Linked DNA regions of Homo sapiens: region 2 is linked to region 1. The links come from fine-mapping of genetic effects on gene expression. A gene starts in region 1. The other region holds a variant in brackets. All regions are shown on one strand. Distances are from middle to middle.

The links. PIP is the estimated chance that this variant, and not a neighbour inherited with it, causes the effect.
Region 2: its variant is fine-mapped to the expression of DDHD1 in prefrontal cortex (ROSMAP, PIP 0.95).

What each region holds. Positions count from the first base shown.
Region 1 is chr14:53,148,620-53,159,715 of GRCh38, reverse strand. DDHD1 (DDHD domain containing 1) reads left to right here and starts at 6,393. Exons shown (of 13, transcript NM_001160148.2): 1 at 6,393-7,455. The coding sequence starts at 6,618. DDHD1-DT (DDHD1 divergent transcript) reads right to left here and starts at 6,362. Exons shown (of 3, transcript NR_110062.1): 1 at 5,985-6,362; 2 at 3,143-3,473; 3 at 2,188-2,554. RefSeq lists a silencer at 6,218-6,547 and enhancers at 7,368-7,567, 7,588-7,637.
Region 2 is chr14:53,020,937-53,032,032 of GRCh38, reverse strand. No RefSeq gene overlaps it. Among named protein-coding and RNA genes, the nearest start is that of FERMT2, 75 kb to the right of the region's middle. The variant G/ATG (reference allele first, on the strand shown) is at 5,878.

The DNA of each region.
Region 1 (11,096 bases):
GTTTTGTTTTTTTTTTTAGGAGGATTCTCACTCTGTCACCCAGGCTGGAGTCAGTGGTGCAATCTCAGTTCACTGCAAGCTCTGCCTCCCGGATTCATGCCATTCTCCTGTCTCAGCCTCCCAAGTAGCTGGGATTACAGGTGTCTGCCACCATGCTCAGCTAATTTTTGTATTTTTAGTAGAGATAGGGTTTTGCCATGTTGGCTGGAACTCCTGAGCTCAGGTGATCCACCTGTCTCGGCCTCCCAAAGTGTTGGGATTACAGGCGTGAGCCACCACACCTGGCCATTTCTGTTGTTTTAAACCATGCAGTGCAGCCCTAGGAAATGAATACACTGTTCCTCTATATCTTCTAAAGGTTTATAATTAATACCTGTCTCTCTCTCTCTCCTTCTTTTTTTTTTTTTTTTTTTTTTTGAGATGAGATATCAGTCTCACCCAGGCTGTGGCATGATCTCGGCTCACTGCAACCTTTGCCTCCCGGGTTCAAGCAATCCTCCCACCTCAGCCTCCTGAGCACCTGGGACTATAGGCACACCACCACGCCTGGGAAATTTTTGTTTTTGTTTTTTGTTTTGTTTTCGGTAGAGACAAGGTTTTGTCATGTTGCCCAGGCTGGTCACGAACTTCTAGGCTCCAGTGATCCTCCTGCCTCAGCCTCCCAAAGTGCTGGGATTACAGGCATGATCCACCTGGCCCAGAGGTTTATAATTTCTAACCTGAGAAGTACAGTCATATGAGTGATCAAAGTTTATAATTGTTAACCTCAGAAGCAGAGTAATATGAATAATCAAATGAAGGACTATTTGTGAGTTCTTACAGATGATTAAGAATTAGTATGAATCTGATGTTCTAAACTTTAGAAGTGAAGGAGTCACAAATGCAGGGCCATTGTTACTAATTTCTCATATTTAAAATATATGTTGCTGAATCTTGAAGATAAAATTTCTGAAGAATTTTGCTTTTCTACCATGCCATTTACATTTATTAATGGTATTATCCTAATGGCTATCTAGTATGGTTCAAGTAACCCAATGGGAGACCCACAAAAAGAATTTGGGAGCTTGTGAGTCTAGAATCATATATATGTATATATAATGATTATTATATGTATGATTATTATATATATATATATATTTTTTTTTTTTTTGAGATGGAGTTTCGCTCTTGTTGCCCAGGCTGGAGTGCAGTAGCATGATCTCGGCTCACTGCAACCTCTGCCTCCTGGGTTCATGTGATTCTCCTGCCTCAGTCTCCCGAGCAGCTGGGATTACAAGCACGCACCACCGCGACCAGTTAATTTTGTATTTTTAGTAGAGATGGGGTTTCACCATGTTGGGCAGGCTGGTCTCGAACTCCTGACCTTGTGATCCACCCGCCTTGGCCTCCCAAAGTGCTGGGATTACAGGCGTGAGCCACCGTACCCGGCCTAGAATCATATTTTATTCAAGCTGAAACTTTAAATGAGTTGCTGACTTATGATGTAAGGATAAACATACTTTTTTAAGCAGCAGTTGCAAAAACAGTAAATCAATTCTGCTGTTCAGTCTTTTAAATGCTCAGCAAATTACTGACAGTTACATTAGTGGAAATAAATCCTTATTGGAACAAAGCTTCTCTTTTCTTTCCTTTTTAACTTATATATGACAATACACATACGCAAGGTGCTGCCTCTAAGTCTTGCTCAGCACCATATTATGATTATCAATTACTTTTTATTGAAGGCTCATATGAGTCTGTGAACAAATATGTACTTTCAACTTACCTGTGGAGGTAGGAAAAAATCCTAGAGCGCAGAAGTCATTAAATACATCTACAATGGGTGCATAATGTGGGCCTCACAGCAGCCAATAGCTATGGCCCAACTCACTTTTCTATAATGAAAGGGCAGGAAGATGGCCAAATCTGTCTGATATAAACAAGCTGATGAGGATTTTGTGGCTGCCTCCACAGAGTATGCATCAATGTTGTATTGATTTATACTTTCTTTCATTTGAATATATACCTTCACCACCACTGACCTTTATTTCCAAAAGGAATAGAAAACATTTTTATAGGGTTTTGGTAAGTATGGTTTTGTGGATAGGCCTCTTATAAATCTTTAAATAAATGCATTTCATAATTCTAAATTTTAAGTGTAATTTCAGTTAAAAATAAAAACACAATAGCACTAGACAATAAATATTTGTTGAATGAATAAATGGAAGGATTAATGACTTTATTCATCATGAATCCCTACGTTATTTCTGCCCACCTTGCTTCCTTTGGATTGTAATTTGATTTTGTTTATTGATCTGTCTGTAGGGAGAGAATGACCCCATGGTAGTGATGCAGCTATAGTGGCATTACAATTATATTCCTCATAGGAATTTAAAAGTTAGCATTTTGGTTTTATTTATAGACACCACTAGACTGTGAATGCTTCACTGTAGAGCCTAGCACAGTGCCTGAAATGTCCAGCGAATGTTCCCTGCTTCAGTCTAGGTTGTTGTTTCATTTGGTCAGGGCATCAGATAAAACACTCTCATCTTTAAAAACCAGATAAGTAGTAATCCTAAAAATAAAAAGTGAAATAAAATTTAAGTTGTGGTGGATGGCTTATCGAACACGAGATACAGCAGATGGGGGCATGGTTATGTCTGCCCTCTTTCTTTCATTCTAAATAGGGGTCTTCCATCATACACTTTGGATGAAGCTATTTCAAGTGCAGGTGTGGGATGTTGGCTCAGGATAAATTACTTGGCATCAAGCATTCCCTAATGTTACAAACGTGAAGACAGGTTAAAATGAACAACATGGTGGCTTGTGCCTGTAATACTAGCTACTGGGGAGGCTGCAGCAGGAGGATTACTTGAGGCCAGGAGTTCAAGGCTGCAGTGAGCTAGGATTGGCCTACTATACTTCACCCGGGCAACAGCAAGACCCTATCTCTAAAATAATAAAATGAATAACAGGGACAAACTTTAAGAAAAGAAGAAAAGGGAAAGACAGCACACAATTGCACGAAAACATCTTTGAGACGCGGGAGGAGATGGCCGTTGTTACCAGATAGCTCTTGCCATATGCCTAATGGGGACAGGAAGGTGGTAGGATACACAGACGAGCTGTTTTAGTCTTTTGTAGTACAAACCAACTGGCTTACCTTTTTTTTTTTCTGCACACCAATAACTCCGTCAGGCTTGATTCCACATGCACCTGTTTCTTGCGGCAGCATGGCCCAGTAATGCCAGAAGTCTGAATCAATCACACTTATTTGCCTTATGTGAAAGAGGCCTTGTCTTGCGTAATTATTAAAATACAATGGAATGCTTTACATAGAGCCATGGAAGTTCAGATAATGCTGTGTCCATTGTACACACTAATGATGTAGAGTGGTGAGGAGCCACCTGACACCTATTCTGGCAGGTGGGGACTAGAATAGATGCCCCAACCCATCTCCCTCTGGTCAGGATCATATTACCTGAGAAGATGATCTAGAAAACAAAAGGAGAGCAGGAACAGGAGGCATTAGATAAAACATGACTTTTTAAAGCAGAAAAGTTGAGAAAAACAACATCATGACCTTTGCCTTGCTATGATGGCTAGGGAGTAAAAAGGAAATAAACACATGCAGTCACATGAAGTTAGATATTGTGCTCTCAAATATCTTCTGAGCACTGTCAGCCTGGGACCCAGTATATGGGTCTGCCATAGCCCAAGCTCACTTCCAAGGGGCAGAAGCAATCTCAGCCCACAAATGTTGATTGACATCTCCCCTCAACAAGGTCTAGACCAAGCTTGCCCAACCTGCAGCCCATGGGCCATATGCAGCCCAGGATGGCTTTGAATGTGGCCCAACACAAATTCATAAACTTTCTTAAAACAGTACGAGATTTTTTCGTGATTTTTTAAGCTCATCAGCTATCATCAGTGTTAGTGTATTTTATGTGTGACCCAAGACAATTCTTCTTCTTCCGATGTGGCCCAGGAAAGCCAAAAGATTACACACACCTGGCTCTAGACCAAGATAACCAGGTCAGCAGAGAATCTAGGATTCCCTTCTTCTGCCACCTGGGTTGTGTTGAGAATCAACATTTCCTTCAAAAATGATCACTCTACCTAAAAGGAGTGTGGCATTTCCCCAGTGAACCACAAGAGGATAATCTTCTCAAAATAACCAAATAAGCACACTTAAAAGTAATAGAAACATTCATTCAATGCAAAGCAGAAAGTACTTTTTTTTTTTTTCCAAGACGGAGTCTCGCTCTGTAGCCCAGGCTGGAGTGCAGTGGCGTGATCTCGGCTCACTACAAGCTCCGCCTCCCGGGTTCACGCCATTCTCCTGCCTCAGCCTCCCGAGTGGCTGGGACTACAGGTGCCCGCCACCACGTCCAGCTAATTTTTTGTATTTTTTTTTAGTAGAGACAGGATTTCACCATGTTAGCCAGGATGGTCTCGATCTCCTGACCTCGTGATCTGCCCGCCTTGGCCTCCCAAAATGCGGGGATTACAGGCGTGAGCCACCGCGCCCGGCCTTAGTACTTCTTTTTTTTTTTTTTTTTTTTTTTTTTTTTTTTTTTAACAGAGGATAATGTTAACGGAAATTGTGTAGTCAAGAGTTAAAATCTGGCCAAAATAATCTGACCAGATAGTTATATAGTTAGGCTACATTCTATCAAGAAACATAAAGGAATAGAGATATTTTAAATGTTGTGATATTCCTTATTTATAATCCCCTTCATAGTACTTTTCATACTGTACTATAATATAATGTATCTGTTTACTTGTCTGTATCCCCCTCTAGGCTGTAAGTTCCTTGAAGAAAGAAAGAACTCTCTCCCATTCTCTCTTATAGTAGAAGTTAGCATAGAGGTGCCTGGCATATAGGTGGCCAGACACCTATTCAAACCCTGTAGAATGAATGCTTTTACAGCTAGTAAACAGACCAAAGCCCATACCCAATATCATATGCTGCATATTGTCAATAGAAATACTGGAGGAGCAACTGGGAAGCAGGCACTCAGAAATTTTTTTTGAGTGGTAAAGAGGGTCCTGATCTTAGATGCTTTCAGTCAGAGCTGCAGTATACAGTTGGATAGGTTGTTCACTGCACAAGGTTAACCAGCTAAGGGCACTAATTGGGGCAGAAAATCCAGCCTGTATTCTACTTGACAAGCCATCAACTCCAACACCGCTCTGTATCTGCCCACAGGAAGCAATGCCTTTTTTCAAATTCCTACAAAGGCCCTGTACAAACTTCAGATAGTCTTGATTTAAATAATGACAGAGTAATAATGTCTGACAGGTTACATCTCAGGAGCAAGAAAAATTGCCCTACCAATCTGATTCCACCAGAGAGTAAAAGAAATAGTGAAGACTGTCTATTCTTAAAATGAAAACACTGAGGTTGGAGATGGTTTTTCTCTGGATTCTCAACATAGGGTGATGTGCTTACAAAATAATTTTTTTTAAATAAAAAAGACCCACATAAGGGAGCCTCTGTATTCAACTTGATCCCAGAATATGAGTTACAGAATCAGAGATGCATAAAAATCTGGAAGAAACCTTAAAGTTCATAGAATTCCATTGCTAGAAGGAACTTTAGATATCATCTGGTCCAAGAATCTTAATTTTACAGATGAGGAAACCAAAAAGATCAGGAAGATTATGTGATTTGCCTGTGGATGGTTAGCAAAGCTAAATCTAGAACCTGGTTGTTTTCTACCTCTCAATCGAACACTCTTTACCACAGCTGGTTGGACTTGACATCATTATAATCAACTAAGACTGATTGCGCACCCACTGTGTGGGAGAGGCTGACATGGACTTGGTTTCCATCAAGGGCCTAGCAATGAGGTTGAGAAAACAGGAAATCCAAGCATCAAAAGATAAGTAATAATATGAGATGGCATATGAAGCAAGGTTTAGATTCCAGTTTCCCAGTGGGAGTGGTGACACCAAGGTGAGTGATGGGTGTGGGGTGGAGTGCCCTCGTATCCACCCACCTATGCGTCCTGGTTCTGTCTGGAGGCACCAGGGCCAGGTGACAAAACGTCCAGGCGAGGCCGCAGTAGGGCCTAAGGTCAAAAAGAGCAATGCTGAATCCTACATCCTGGGGCCCTCCTAACACGTAGCTTAAGGCTCTGGGCTCATGACCCACATTGTAAGGATGAGTGGGGTAAAGCCTATCCACATCTGGGCTGTGAATTCCAGAAGCGGGGGACCGAGGCAGCTGTGCATGAAGACCGCAAGGAAGGAGGAAGGGAGCCGAGGAGGCCCAAGAGCGGCGGGCGACCTGACACCACCCTGCCCTCCCAGCCAGAGGGGCAGGGGGGAACCCCGCGCGCGGCGCCGGTGCAGCCCGGGCTTCCGGGGCGGCGCACGCGGCCGGGGGGCGGGGCGGGGGCCGAAGCACCGCCTACGTCGGGCTGCGTGACAATGGGGCCGGCGGCAGAACGCAGCTGCGGCGGCTGCGGGTCTCGTGGGGGCGGAGCGGTCGCCGCTGCCGCCGCAGCTCGGGTCGGGATTTGAAAGATTAGAAACTTCGGGTGGAGAGGGCGGCGGCGTTGAATGTGTGGCGGAAGCGCTGGGGGTCACGGCTCCGCGCGCCGCCGGACAGCCGGCGGCGTCTCCACAGCATGAATTACCCGGGCCGCGGGTCCCCACGGAGCCCCGAGCATAACGGCCGAGGCGGCGGCGGCGGCGCCTGGGAGCTGGGCTCAGACGCGAGGCCAGCGTTCGGCGGCGGCGTCTGCTGCTTCGAGCACCTGCCCGGCGGGGACCCGGACGACGGCGACGTGCCCCTGGCCCTGCTGCGCGGGGAACCCGGGCTGCATTTGGCGCCGGGCACCGACGACCACAACCACCACCTCGCGCTGGACCCCTGCCTCAGTGACGAGAACTATGACTTCAGCTCCGCCGAGTCGGGCTCCTCGCTGCGCTACTACAGCGAGGGTGAGAGCGGCGGCGGCGGCAGCTCCTTGTCGCTGCACCCGCCGCAGCAGCCTCCGCTGGTCCCGACGAACTCGGGGGGCGGCGGCGCGACAGGAGGGTCCCCCGGGGAAAGGAAACGTACCCGGCTTGGCGGCCCGGCGGCCCGGCACCGCTATGAGGTAGTGACGGAGCTGGGCCCGGAGGAGGTACGCTGGTTCTACAAGGAGGACAAGAAGACCTGGAAGCCCTTCATCGGCTACGACTCGCTCCGCATCGAGCTCGCCTTCCGGACCCTGCTGCAGACCACGGGTGCCCGGCCCCAGGGCGGGGACCGGGACGGCGACCATGTGTGCTCCCCCACGGGCCCAGCCTCCAGTTCCGGAGAAGATGACGATGAGGACCGCGCCTGCGGCTTCTGCCAGAGTACGACGGGGCACGAGCCGGAGATGGTGGAGCTTGTGAACATCGAGCCTGTGTGCGTGCGGGGCGGCCTCTACGAGGTGGATGTGACCCAAGGAGAGTGCTACCCGGTGTACTGGAACCGTGAGTAGCGGGCCGGGGTTAGGGCAGGACGGGCTGCCCCTGCATGGGCCGATGCGCACCGGTGTGGGTTTGGGACTGGTCGCCGCGAAGAGGGAGGCGCGTGAGGCCTGGCGTTTGGCTGGGGCAGGATGGAGATTGAGCAGGGAGCGTCGGCAGCTGAAGGGTAAACGAGCAGATGGCAAAACCCAAGCTGCCTGGGGTCAGGAGGACTGGATACCTTCGGGGGTAGCGCCTCCTGGGTGAGCCGGGTGCTGCTGCCATCCCCTGGAAGTGATCCAGGACCGGATCCGCAGCCCGAGGTTTAATTTCGTGATCCTACCAGCTTTGTCCACCTGGGGATCTGGTTCTGTCTCATTTACCCTAAACAGCCTATGATTTAAATAGCGGCACGTCTTCTGGAGTAGGAAGGTTTGAGAGGATCTGCTCGAGAATCAACAGCTTAGTTATGGGTTCAGGAAAAGTAAAAGAATCCCTGGAGGGAAAGGAGATAGGTTGTTCCCACTGGGTGTGTTCGGAGAGGTGGAAAGCACTGCGTGAAGCAGCTCTGGCAAGTGGCTCCGCTCCCTCGGTGGAATACTGGATTCTGTCTCTTAGGTCCTCATTTACATATTTTTGTGTTTGCATCTTAACCTTGAAAAATTACCATTTCTATGCCTCGTCTTCCTCATTTGTAAAAGGGGAGAAATTGTACCTACCTCACGGGATTGTTGTGAAAGTAAATTAGAAAATATACTTCAAGGGCTTGGAACTATGGTTGGTACTTACGTGTGATATGAGTGTTAACAGTATTTATTAGACAACAACACAGACGGGTTTATAGTTAGAATAGGAGGAAGGTGACCGTAAATATCTGCCAGTGCATGCAGCAAATATTACGTATGTAATATATAGGAGATATTCAATAGTCACAGAAGTTACTGACCACCAGTATTATAATATGTAATATACACTTTTAATTTTCGTGGGCCCAATGCCCTAACTTAGATGTCTTCATTGATTGTGACAACCTTTAGATCCTCCATACAACACTCTGCCCTCTATTAGATGGATTGATGACAGCTTCCTTTCTGTATGTTAGGACCTTACCATCGGCAGAGCCCGTCACCTTTATCTTTGTACTCTGATAGGGCCTAGTGCAATATATATTCAATAACTAGGTATTGAATTGCATCAGTGATTCTGATAATGTTAAAACATTCATATGTTAAGCATGACTTACTAAGATAGCAATTCCAACATGTGTCAAATCACCAAATAAAATAATAGCAGGAAATTTAATTTCTTACTGCACATTAAGATGATACTAAAGGCATTCATTACCATTTTTATAAGGTCAGATTTAGTGAGATCTGTTACATCATTCACTTTTTTAGATTATATACTCACTAAAGGCAGGGTATGTTTATATTCATTCAGTTCTTTCATATTCAGAATATTTATATGTGCATAACGGTACTCTTGTGAAGGCATTAAGAAAGATGGGGAAAAGGAAAATCCTTACCCTTTCAGAGCTTCCCACTCGGTGTTTCCTTCAAATGACTTAAACATAATCATAGATTTTTTTTCCTGAAGATAGAAGTACCAAGACTTAGTGGAGTCAGAAAGTTGGATAAAAATACAGGGTATCCTTGGAGAGGGGACGGAAACCAAGAGATGAATCTTACCCTTAGATTAAACTGAAGTATATTCACCAAGAATACTGTGTGCTCTCTTGGTTTTTGATAAAATTGTTAATGCCTGCGTGGTACTTCACTGTTTACAAAGTGATTTTTGACATTGATTATTTTACAGTGATAGCAAATTAATACCAACATTATATACATGAAGAAATGGGCTCAGCGAAATTAATGAACTTGTCCAAGGCCACTTAGCTAGAAAGTGATGAAGCAGTTCATTCATTAGTCTAGTGGGGGAATACAGTGCAGTATGCAAAGAGCTTCTGACCCATCCAAGGGTGAGGGTATCAGGAAAGCGTCCCAGAAAATTTAAGACAGAGTCTTACAGGATGAATTTAATGAAGCAGAGAAATAGAGGGAAGGGCATTCCAGCTAGATGGGGCACATACACAAGGACACAGGTCTGAAACTGCGTGGCATTTTAAGGAAGTGAGGTCTACACCTGCAGGCACTGTGACACATGAGGTGGGTTTGGGCTTTGACCAACCACAGAGACCAAAGTATGTGAGGGATGGTGTTTGGTCAGGGACAGGATGGAGATTGTGAAGGGAGCACCTGCACATGAATGGCGCATTTGGGACAATAGCTGGAAAAGAGACAGGGTAGATATGCAGTGCTAAGGAGTTTGGCCTTTATCCTGCGAGTAATGAGGAACCAAACAGTAGAAGGTTCTTTATACTTACATGTGATTAATGACAATGCAAAAGTTGAGCTGGAGAGTTGGAAGCAGAATATCAGTAGAATGCTAGTGTCATAAATCAGGTGAAAACTGGTGGGAGCCTACAGAAGTTAACCTAAAGGTAATGTGGACTTCCCTTTCTCCAACCTTCTTTCCTAAAGCAAATAGCCATTAGGCCAATTATAGCTTATAACTAGCATAAGAGCAACACCTATTTTTATCTATATTTTAGCATTTTCTAAATAGTTCTCTACAAGATACAATCCTGTGGATGTCCAAGCCCTTGTATAAGCTATAATAAAAACACAGTAGTGCTTTTTGTCTATCCTGTAATTTGCCATTTCTCACAAAATCTCATATAACTTTAATTGGTTTCTTAAGTCTCTGTGTGTAAGTTTTCACACTTTCTAGGAGGGTCCAGTCCCCGTATGGGTTCTTCAGCCTTTCTTCAAATAGAAAAACTCATACTATACGTTGCAGCTTTTGACCTTGCCCCCATTTTACTTTTCCTTTTTAGCTGTTTTGGAAACTGTCTGGTTAGTGGTAATAAAAGTGTTTGAAAAAAAATGTCCAGTAAGTTCCTATGTAGAATGGTGGTATGAATCCATTGGCCATTTAGATTTTTGTGGCCTAATTTAGCCCACTGCATCTGGGTGTCAAGGCCAACAAGTTAGCTATACCTATTCTAAAAGAAAGATTTTATTTTATTCTTCCTTTTGAACTTGACTAGCAGATAAAATTTGAACTAATTTGGGGTACATGAATCAGAAAGGAGAACAGAATTTGTCTTCTATTAATGAGGAGCAATATTATTACATATGAAAAAATATCGTAGTAAACATTTTTGTTTTATTGTATGTTTAGATATTCTCCTGGCTGCATGTGGACATTTTAGATAAAAACTAATCATTGCTGAGTAATGGTTAAGTGAACTCTCTTGTTTGCAGTGTTCTTCCTGTTTGTACTCACTTCATAGACTTGTTTTGAGGATTATTATATGTAACATCCTTATTACAGTGGTTGGCACATTGTACTAGGTGTTAACTATATGTGGGTCTCACAAAAACTATACACCTTATTTTTAGTTCACATACAGGTTAGTAAGGTTAACCAGTGCACAGTTGTTGAGTGCCCACAATTTCTTGTTATTACTCAGTACCTCATCAGAGGTGAAAGAATGTCTGTAAGGAACATTGGCAAGAAAGTGGCCAAAGCATTCAGTAATAGCAGATGGGAAGGCATATGGAACATTCTAGAGATATTTCATGAGCTTAGAATAATTCAGC
Region 2 (11,096 bases), 130 kb after region 1:
GTAAGGCATCACTGTTGTGATAAGCATAAGGAAGATGTAACTCAAAATATATGGACAAATGGTAAGCTTCAACAGTAAGCTTTACCAAGTGAGTAATAGTATCTGAAATAATCTGTTCATATGATACAATCTCAAAAATGCAACAGGATCTTTTTTGGAACTGGGCAAGCTGTGTCTTAAAATTGTATAGAAAAAATAAGAATATTCAGGAAATTTCCAAGGGGGAAAGAAGAGTAATGAGGACAATTAGCCCACTAGATAGTAAAACATAGTATAATGCTATTGTGACCAAAACACTATAGTAATAGTGTATGAAGAGACAAGAGAGACCAATAGAATAGATGAGGAAGCCCAGAAATATGTCAGATACATAGCCAATTTTAGTATATGATAAAGGCATTTCAAATCATTTATAAGAAGAGCCTAAGAAAAAAATGAGTGAGGTACCACTTTTCACCTATAAGAGTGACAAAGTTCTAAGGGCTTTATAACATGCTCTGTTGGTGAGGGTACAAGGAAAGTTACTCCCAAACATTTGCTGGTGGAAATGTGAATAGGTACAACATTTTTGGAGGGCAGTTTGGCAATATCTATCAAAGCTGAAAATGCCCATACCCTTTAACCCAACCATTCTGCTTCTACAAATCTGTCCTTCAAATATTACCACTCCTGAAAAATGACTTACATATAAAGTAATTAGTTACAGAATTGTTACTGACAGCAAAATATTAAAAGCAATATAAATTCCATTGATTGGGATTAGCTAAAGAAATTATGGTACCTCTATAAGGTGGAATTGTGTATAGATTAAAGAAATTAAAGATAAGGCAGTTCTATATGTACAGGTATGGCAGAGTCCCCAAGCTATGTGGTTAAGTGAAAACCCAAATGCAAAACAGGATGTATAGAATGTAGAGTGTAGAGTGTTTAGAATTTATGCCATTTATAGGCAGTCAGGAAGACATAGGATATAATACCTCTGAAAGATCAAACCAGAAATTACTCTTAGTGGTTACCTCTGCAAAAGAGAATTAGATAACTGAGGGACAGGAGTAGAAGGTATGCTTGCTTTTAGCTATATGCAGTTTGTTATGCCTTTTGAATTTTTAATTGTATGCATGAGTTACCTATTCAAAAGTGTGTTTTATTTTTTAAGAAACAAAAAACATTAGTAGCAGAAATAACAGGCATAATCTGATAACTTTACATACTAGTCTACATACCAAGGAACTTAAATGTTCCTTATTCTTTTGAGAGTATTGAGCAATATTAATATGATTACTATCCCAGAGGCAGATAGGAGATTGTAGGATGTGAGATTAGGAAAGAAATGCCTTACTCAGAATTAGAGGAATAAAGGATCAATCTTTAAAAGTAGGATGATTTAACTATCTGTCCCCATGCTCTTCTTCAGAAAGGCTGAAAAGAAAGGCCTTTGACTGCAATTCTCCTTATAGCTCAAGGTTCATATTCCTTAGATGAGCCATTGTTTTGGAAAACACACTAATGAGTTTTGGGATAGGACAGGGCCGGTCTGGAAAAGAAGAATCAAAATAGTTCTGTACTGGCTATTATTAAAAAGTCAAAAAATAACATGCTGGTGAGGTTGTGGAGAAAAAGGAATGCTTATACACTGTTGGTGGGGGTGTAAATTAGTTCACCCATTTTGGAAGACAGCGTGGTGATTCCTCAAAGACCTAAAGACAGAACTACCATTTGGCCGAGCAGTTCCATTACTGGATGTATACCCAAAGGAATATAAATCATTCCATCATGAAGACACATATATGTGTCTGTTCATTGCAGCACTGTTCACAATAGCAAAGATGTGGAATCAACCTAAATGCCCATCAATGATAGACTGGATAAAGAAAATGTAGTACATATACACCATGGAATACTATGCAGCCATAAAAAGAATGAGATCACGTCCTTTGCAGGGACATGAATGGAGCTAGAGACCATTATCCTTAGCAAACTAGTGCAGGAACAGAAAAACCAAATACAACATGTTCTCATAAGTGGGAGCTAAATGATGAGAACATATGGACACACACAGAGGAACAACACACTGAGGCCTAGCAGAGGGTGGAGGGTGAGGGTTGGAGGAGGGAGAGGATCAGGAGAAATAACTAATGGGAACTGGGTTTAATACCTGGGTGATGAAATAATCTGTATCAACAAACCCACATGACACAGGTTTACCTATGTAACAAACCTGCACATGTACCTCAAACTTAAAAATAGTTCTGCGTATAAAGAAGGAAGTAAAGTGAAGGGCAGAGAATCATAGAAGCAGGTAAGTTTAAGATAGGAGCATGTGAAAAGAAAAAGTAAAAAGCTGTGAAAAGGGAGAGGGAAACCAAGCAGCCTTTAGTAAAGTTAGTTTCATACACAAATGCCTTGTGTGAGTATTATTGTTTTGAGGGGGTTAAGGGCGGAAAGGCTGAGAGTCCTCAGTTGGGACAAAGCAATACAGGAGAGTAACAGCACGTGGGGAGGCACAGTGGCACACACCTGTAGTCCCACCTACTTGGGAGGCTGAGGCAAGAAGATTGCTTGAGCCCAGGATCTTAAGTCCAGCCTGGGGAACATAGTGAGACTCTATCTCTAAAATAAATATAAATAAAATTAATTCTCCAAATACTGAGGTAACTGGAAAATGCATAAATCACCCAGATTTTCCTGAGGAGGGACACGAGTTCAAGCTAATTTTCTTTGAATTTCAAAGGAAAAGGTGCTTCAGCTGACATCTTATTGTTTGTATTTTTAGTAGAGACAGGGTTTCACCATGTTGGCCAAGCTAGTCTCAAACTCCTGACCTCAGGCGATCCACCAGCCTCGGCCTCCCAAAGTGGTGAGATTATAGGCATGAGCCACAGCGCCTGGCATCCCTTAATTCTTAATAAATTATTATACAATAGTTCAGGCTATAATGTGAAGATCAAGGAAAAACACATTTCCAGTTTCTCTCCCTGTCCAAAGTTGCTTTATCTATTAATTTAATTGTTTAGATATCTAGCAAGTGTAGAGACCAAGGGAAAGTTTCCCCTTTACCCTCTAAAGGTTCACTGAAAATGAATGACAATAAGCAGATTATTCGGAGAAAAAGGTATACATGTTTATTTAATATGCATAAGCACAGGGGAATTGCAGGAGAATGATTAATAACCCAATGAGGTCCATATGCTTATATACTCTCCTTCATGGGGGAAAAGGAGATGGGGAAAATATGGCCATTCTGAGGGGTAGTGTCTTAGTCCATTTGTGTTGCTATAAAGGAATACCCAAGGCTGAGTGATTTACAAAGAAAAGAGGTTTATTTGGCTTACAGTTCTGCAGGGTGTACAAGAAGCATGTCACTGGTACCTGCTCAGCTTCTGGTGAGGGCCTCAGGCTGCTTCCATTCACGGTGAAAGGCAAAGGAAAACCAGTGTGCAGAGATCATATGATGAGAGAGAAAGCAAGGGAGATGGGAGGGAGATGCCAGGCTCTTTTGAACGACTAGCTCTTGGGGAAACTCTCTTGAGGGCTAATAGAGCGAGAACTCACTCATTACCTCAAGGACAGCACCAAGACATTCATGAGGGATCCATCCCATGACCCAGACACCTCCCATTAAACCCTACCTCCAACATTGGGGATAAAATTTCAACATGAAGTTCAGGCACGGTGGCTCATGCCTGTAATCCCAGCACTTTGGGAGGCCAAGGCGGGCAGATCACCTGAGGTCAGGAGTTCGAGACCAGCCTGGCCAACATGGTGAAACCCTGTCCATACTAAAAATACAAAAATTAGCTGGGCATGGTGGTGTGCGCCTGTAGTCCCAGCTACTCAGGAGGCTGAGGCAAGAGAATTGCTCAAACCTGGGAGGTGGAGGTTGCAGTGAGCCAAGATCGTGCCACTGCAGTCCAGCCTGAGCAGCAAGTGAGACTCTGTCAAAAAAAAAAAATTCAACATGAAATTTGGAGGGTCAAATATCCAAACTATAGCAGGTAATAAATTATTTTTAGGGGAAATGAATGGGTCCAATGCTCAGACAATGACTATCAAATAATTATTTGGGGGAATTTAATGGAGCCAGAGAACAGAAAATAGTTTGGAAAAAAGTTCAGCTGAGCTCTAGATGTGGTGTTTAATTTTCAGCCTCTTCCTTGGTGATACGAGTTTTAATCTCTGGTTTATGAAATTTCAGGGAGGGGATCAAAGACAGTTGTGTTTCTCTTTCATGGGTCCAGTTTCTAGGTAGATAAGGGAACTTCCAAGAACAGCTACATCCTGTGCTTTGGGAGAGAGAGAGTATTGAAAGAGAAGCGGGCAGGGAGGTCAGAGAGACCTTGAGGCTTCTTCTTTAGTTCAGCATGTCAAAGTATCATATTTTAGGGATCTTTTTCTGAACCCCAACACAAGCATTCCTTGTTTGTATGTGGTTTTCATCTTACGGGTCAGTTAGTTCCATTCCAGTTTGGTTCAATTCAATCCAACAGTAATTTCCTATGTGCTTGCAATTGTCCGAGGTGATACAGAAAACTCAAGAAGCCAAGCCTCTCTCCTTCCACCTCCCTACTCCCACCTTAGGAGTTCACAGCCTGTTCTATTGGTGCAGCTCAATCAGCCTACAGAAATACGTGTCACAAAACAGGAAAAGGAGTAGGGAAGATGGCTTAAACCAGATCACTTGCTGTAACTGCAAAAACAAGGAACAAAAGTTAAGCTGGTTAATATGCATGCTCAGTAGTCAGAAGAATCCTTACAGCAATATTACTTGTACCAACTCTCATTAGCCTGAATGAAGCTCTTGTTTGACTCTAAATCCTGCCAGTACTGAGTACCCAGATTGTATTTCCCAGGGAGAAGCCTTGGTCCTTTGTGCTGTGCCAAGGAGAGTTAAAGGTAAGAAGGCCTCCATTTCCCCACAACTTCTCTCAATTCTTGATGCCAATGGATCCTGGGAGTTGTAGAACCAGTTTATGTATTAGATTGGTGCAGAAGTTATTGCGGTTTTTGCCATTACCTTCAATGGCAAAAACTGCGATTACTTTTGCACCAACCTCATACAGGCTAACAAAAGGATTTAATTACCTTCAATATTTTTATTTCTCACAAATGCAAAATATCCTCAAGTATTTAAATTCTCAACATTCCACATAGAAGCTAGAATAATTTGCAAGTAATACATGCACATATAAAGTGAGTTTAGGCTGGGCACAGTGGCTCAAACCTGTAATCCCAGCACTTTGAGAGGCCAAGGCAGGAGGATCACTTGAGTCCAAGAGTTCAAGATCAACCTGGGCAACACAGTGAGACCTAGTCTCTACAAAGAAAAAAGGCAAGAGTGGTGGTACACACAAGTAGTTCGAGCTACTCAGGAGGCTGAGGTAGGAGGATCACTTGAGCCTAGGAGATCAAGGCTATAGTGGGCTGTGATCGCACCACTGCACTCCATCCTGAGTGACATAGCAAGACTCTGTCTCTAAATAAATACATAAATAAATAAATAAATAAATAAATAAAAGGGTTTGGATGCTGGACCACCTGAATTATGAATATCTATTATATGCCAGGCACAATGGCTCATGCCATAATCCCAGCACTTTGGGAGGCCAAGGCAGGTGGATCACTTGAGCCCAGGAGTTTGAGACAAGCCTGAGCAACATGGCAAATCCCCATCTCTAAAAAAAAAAATTAAAAACTTAGCCAGGTATGGTGGCACACACCTGTAATCCCAGCTACTCGGGAGGCTGAGGTGGGAGGATCACCTGAGCCCGGAAAGTTGAGGCTGCACTGAGCAGAGGTCTTGCCACTGCACTCCAGCCTGGGCAACAGAGCAAGATCCTGTCTCAAAAAAAAAAAAAATATATATATATATATATATAT[G/ATG]TATATATATAATATTTAAATTTTCACTTTGTTAATTTGGGCTCATCAGTTGAGAATCCAGTGATTTTGCCATCCAGTGAGCTTACATTTCCAGGTTTCTGCTGCTACACACTTTTTTAGATAGTCTTTTGTGCTTCTCCAGACTTAAAGAATTGCACAGGATAGGGTCAGAAGCAATCATTGTAACCAGGCTTTCCTCTGATTTAAAGAACATACATTAATCTTAAGGAAATGGCTAACCAACCAGCTATGGTCCTCTTAATTGCTGAATAACCCAGTACACAGACCTCCATCCTGCCACTTAAATAAGAGATATTAAGAAAAGTTTTGTCAGATCCTGTGACAGTTAATTTGATGTGTCACCTTGACTTGATCATGGAATGCCCAAATATCTGGTTAAATATGACTTCTGGGGTGTGCCTATGAGGGTATTTCCAGAAGAGATTTGCATTTGAATTGACAGACTGAGTAAAGGAAATTATTCTCCGCAATGTGAATGTGCACCATCCAATCCATTGAGGGCCTGAGTAGAGAAAACAAGGATTCACTCCCTCTGCCTGACTGCTTGAGCTGAGGCATTTATCTTCTCCTGCCCTCAGTACGCCTGGTTCCCAGGTCTTTAGATCCACAGTGGAATACACACCATTGGCTCTGTGGCTCTCAGGTCTTCAAACTATGCCACCAACCAGCTTTCATGGGTCACCAGCTTGCTTGGCAGCCTAATGTGGAAAGCAGATGAGCTACCCCAGGTTACACAAGGGTGGCTTGTGGTTCAGCTGTAACATCTGGTAATTTGACAAGTGTTTGTACCGTAAGAGTCAGTGTCAGGACCATTTATGACCTTCATAAGAGGCTTGAGGATGCTGCCTGTGAAATCAAACCACAGGGTATGTCTTGCCTTGGTATGTCACACAGGAAAGGCCCAGTACCACTCCTGTTTTCAAGACAAAGGGGAAAATTCCCTTCTAATGGCTTTACCTGAGCAAAGGACAGTCCTTGAGCTTCCCTGAAAGTTTTTCCATATCCAAGTAACTCACCAAGAGGAGAAGTAGAGTGACATTGTTTTCTTGGTGATAAATGCCGTATCTTGTCATAGATCTATTTTCCAGTCTTGGTCTACCAGCTTTTTGCAAGTACCTGTCATTCCTTGGCAGGAATTAAAATTAGTTCAGGTTTTTTTTTTTTTTTTTTTGAGACGGAGTCTTGCTCTGTCATCCAGGCTGAAGTACAGTGCCTCAATCTTGGCTCGCTGCAACCTCTGCCTCCTGGGTTCAAGCGATTCTCCTGCCTCAGCCTCCCAAGCAGCTGGGATCACAGGCATGCATCACCACGGCAGCTAATTTTTGTATTTTTAGTAGAGACAGGGTTTCACCATGTTGGCCAGGCTGGTCTCGAACTCCTGGCCTCAAGTCATCCGCCCACCTTGGCTTCCCAAAGTGCTGGGATTACAGGCATGAGCCATCGTGCCTGGCCTAGTTCAGGTTCTTTTGTGTGATCTAGATGTTGGACATAGACAGCAATCTGATTAACTAATATGCCAGGGTTTGGGAAACTGGTGTAGGAGGATGTCAGGTTTCTGCTTGGCCTATTGAGAAAACTGGAAGAGTTTATAAAAGCATAATAGAGTTTGGAAGAGAGCCCATAGCGGAGAGTCAGAGTGAAAACAGGATAGATAGAGACGCGCAATCTCCAGTCAGCCTTTAAATAAATGGCCAAAGAAAAGGAGTCTTCATTAAAAGGAAGAGGTATTTTTGTTTTTGTTTTGGAGTAAGGAGACATAATGGGGGAGAAAATCGGTGGAAGTGAAGTTTCTTAATGACCTTGGGAAAAAATTGTCTACTTCATGATGCTGTCTGCTTCCTGAGCCTGGGGATTAACCCTGGAAATCCTTACTTTAAGGTCACTTGCAGGGATGGTCTTCCAAATTGTCCTGAGAGTGCTGATCTGGGGTCTCTCAATTGTCCTAAGAGTGCTGACCTAGCTTAGCATGGCTTGCAGGAATCCATGAGGATTTTTATTTTATTTAGATAGCGGCATAAGTTGTTAGCAGTACTTCATAAGGTCCTTCCTAGCTAGGTAATGTCTTCTAAAAACCTTGATGTACATAGATCTCCTCGTCAAAAGAGATGGCAAGCATTGTCAGTTGGCAGAGGCTGGCTGTGTCATTTTTACCTGTTGATATGCTCCAAGTATACTTGTCAGTTCCTGTATATAACTAGTCATAGCATCGAATTGTTCACTTAAGTCTCCATAATGGTTCACTCAATTCAAGAATAGAAGGCTTAGAGATACCAGTAGGCATAGAACAACCAAGTATTGTTTCCAAAGGGGTAAATTCATGCCTTCTATTTCAAGTATTACAGGTTTTATGTATTTAGGGGAACGCTTCTGGCCATTTCAGTGCAGTCTCTTGATAGAATTTTCCTAAAATTTTTTGTTTCTACCTAGCCAATATTTTAATAATCCACAATATTAGCTGATTCATAAAAAGTGCTTTTACAACCTGTTACCATCTAAGATAATGCATCATACAATTTTCAAGAATGTGTTGATTTTGAGCCTCTGTTCTGTAGAATTCCCTGTGCTGCAGCCGGTACATGCTCCTTTTTGATGACTCCACATTTATTCTCACAGGCATTTGTCCTGGACTCTTCTGCTAATCAATGAACAAACAGTAAGTCATTCAGATGGGCCAGTAACTCACCACTTGTCTCCATATGAAGGTGAGGCTTCTGTTACTTGAAGACTTGATTAAGTAAGCGTGGGAGACTGTGCATGGTGGCTCACATGGGCATGTAATCCCAACAGTTTGGGAGGCCGAGGCAGCAAGAGTTCATGACCAGCCTGGGCAACATAACAAGACCCCCATCTGTATAAAAAACAAAATAATTAGCTGGGTGTGGTGGTACGTGCCTGTAGTCCTAATTATTGGGAGGCTGAGGTAGGAGGATCATTTGAGCCCAGGAGGTCAAAGTCACACCACTGCACTCCAGCCCGGGTGACAGAGCAAGACCCTATCTCTAAAAAATTTTTAAATAAAATCTTTTTTTAAAGATGTGGGGGAACTTATACTTTATCTGCTTTTTCTGGTGGACTGTGGTTCCCCCACCCCCACCAAGCACCAGCTGCCTCAGCTCCTAAAGCCCTCCCCACACCACACACAAGCTCATGCTCACTAGGGCAGTGAAAACAACCCAGTCCCTCCAATGCTTCTTTCCCCAAAGTCCTTTTTATGTCTAGCTTTTTCTGTTCCACTTGCCCTGAGGATAAGGGATGATCAGGGTATGAAATTTTAATGAGTATCCCAAAGTTTTTGCAAGCAAGTGGTTTATTTCTGCTATAAAATGAATTCCTTGGTCTGACTCAATTCATAAAGGAATGCCAAAACAAAGAATAATCTTATTCATTTATTCACCACTGTCGTGGCATCAGCACGTCTAGTCAGATGGCGTTCAGTCTATCCACTAAACATAGAAACAATAAGCAAACAGTGAGAATAGCCTAAAGCTGGAGGTAAATCTATGAAATCCACTTGGAGTGCCACAAGAGGCAATGTAGGCCTCAAGGACTTCCTGAGGAATATTGGTTTCCTACAGAAATTTGGTGAGATTTACAAGCAGTATGCTGGGAAATAATTCGGTCAGAAATTTTGTGGGTGCCAGGGCAGAACCAATTATAATTTTTTTTTTTTTTTTGGAGACGGAGTTTCGCTGTTGTTGCCCAGGCTGGAGTGCAATGGCACAATCTTGGCTCACTGCAACCTCCGCCTCCCGGTTCAAGCAATTCTCCTGCCTCAGCGTCCCAAGTAGCTGAGATTACAGGTGCCCGCCACCATTCTCAGCTAATTTTTTGCATTTTTAATAGAGATGGGGTTTTACCATGTTGGCCAGGCTGGTCTCGAACTCCTTACCTCAGGTGATCCACCCACCTCGGCCTCCCAAAGTGCGGGGATTACAGGCATGAGCCACCACACCTGGTGCCCATTTATCTTTTGGGTCCTTAACTATCCTCCATCTGCACATACATCCCATTTGATGGGAGACAAGTGCAAGCCAAAAGGCTGAAAGAATGGGGGCCATAGGAAATCCTTTTGGCCCAATGTATAATCCATCTGATCATTGTTTTGAATGCTTTTGTATCCATTTGTCTTTTCAGATCATGGAGCATCTGCCTGATAATCAATAGTATCAGCTAGAGATAAAGGCAGGTTTAGAAACTAGATATAAAAAAAAAAAGGTGGCACATTTTTGGCTGTGTATTTAGCAGCCTTGTCAGCCCTATTGTTCCCAAGAGATACAATACCAGACTCCTTAGTATGGGCTGAACAATAAGCAACAGTAATTTTAGTAGGGAGGAAAATAGCCTGTAATAGATCAACAATTATATGCCCATTGGCAATAGAAGCACCAGCAGAAGTTAAAAATTCAAGGCATTTCCAGATTATGCCAACAGTATGGCAGACTCCAAAGGCATATCTGGAGTCGGTGTAAAGAGTGGCCATTTTTTCTTTTGCCAGTGTGCAAACTTGAGTGACAGCTATCGGTTCAGCAGCTTGGGCTGATCTTACAATGAGCAAAGAGCACACCTCAAGTGTTTCATGTGGGAAAACTAGCCAGTTGTTATGTTTCCTTGGCAATTTCATCTACAAGAGCCATCACAAAACAGAAGTAAGTCTGGGTTGTCCAAAGGGGTAGCTAAGAGGTTTGCTCGTGGCTTTGAGACCATTTCTACAGTGTTAAGGCAATGATGAGAAATGGAGTGAAGCTCTTCATTAGCAGGGAGAGGTGGTAGAGTAGCTGGATTTAAAGTGTTACAGTGATGTAACGTGATGGAGGGATGGTTAACAGGGCTTTTCTGAAGTGGTCGGTCATCATGTAGAGAGGTGCTGTGTTTTATAAACTTATAAGAAAGCAGACAGACATAGTAGGGGGAACATAGAGGTAAATGGAGGATTCTAATATAAGAGTACCGCCTTTGCCAATTAGGGTGGCAGCTGCAGTAACTGCACACAGGCGTGAGGGCATACTTGCTACCATGGGGTCTAACTGACATGAGAAATATGCTACAGGACATATATGAGATCCAAAAAGTTGTCCTAGAATACCTGCAGCAATCTCATTATGTTTATGGCAATACAAGTGAAAAAGTTTGTCAAAATTAGGTAAGCCAAGGGCAGTGGGTACGAACAATGCTAATATTAAGGCTCAGAGGAGATCATC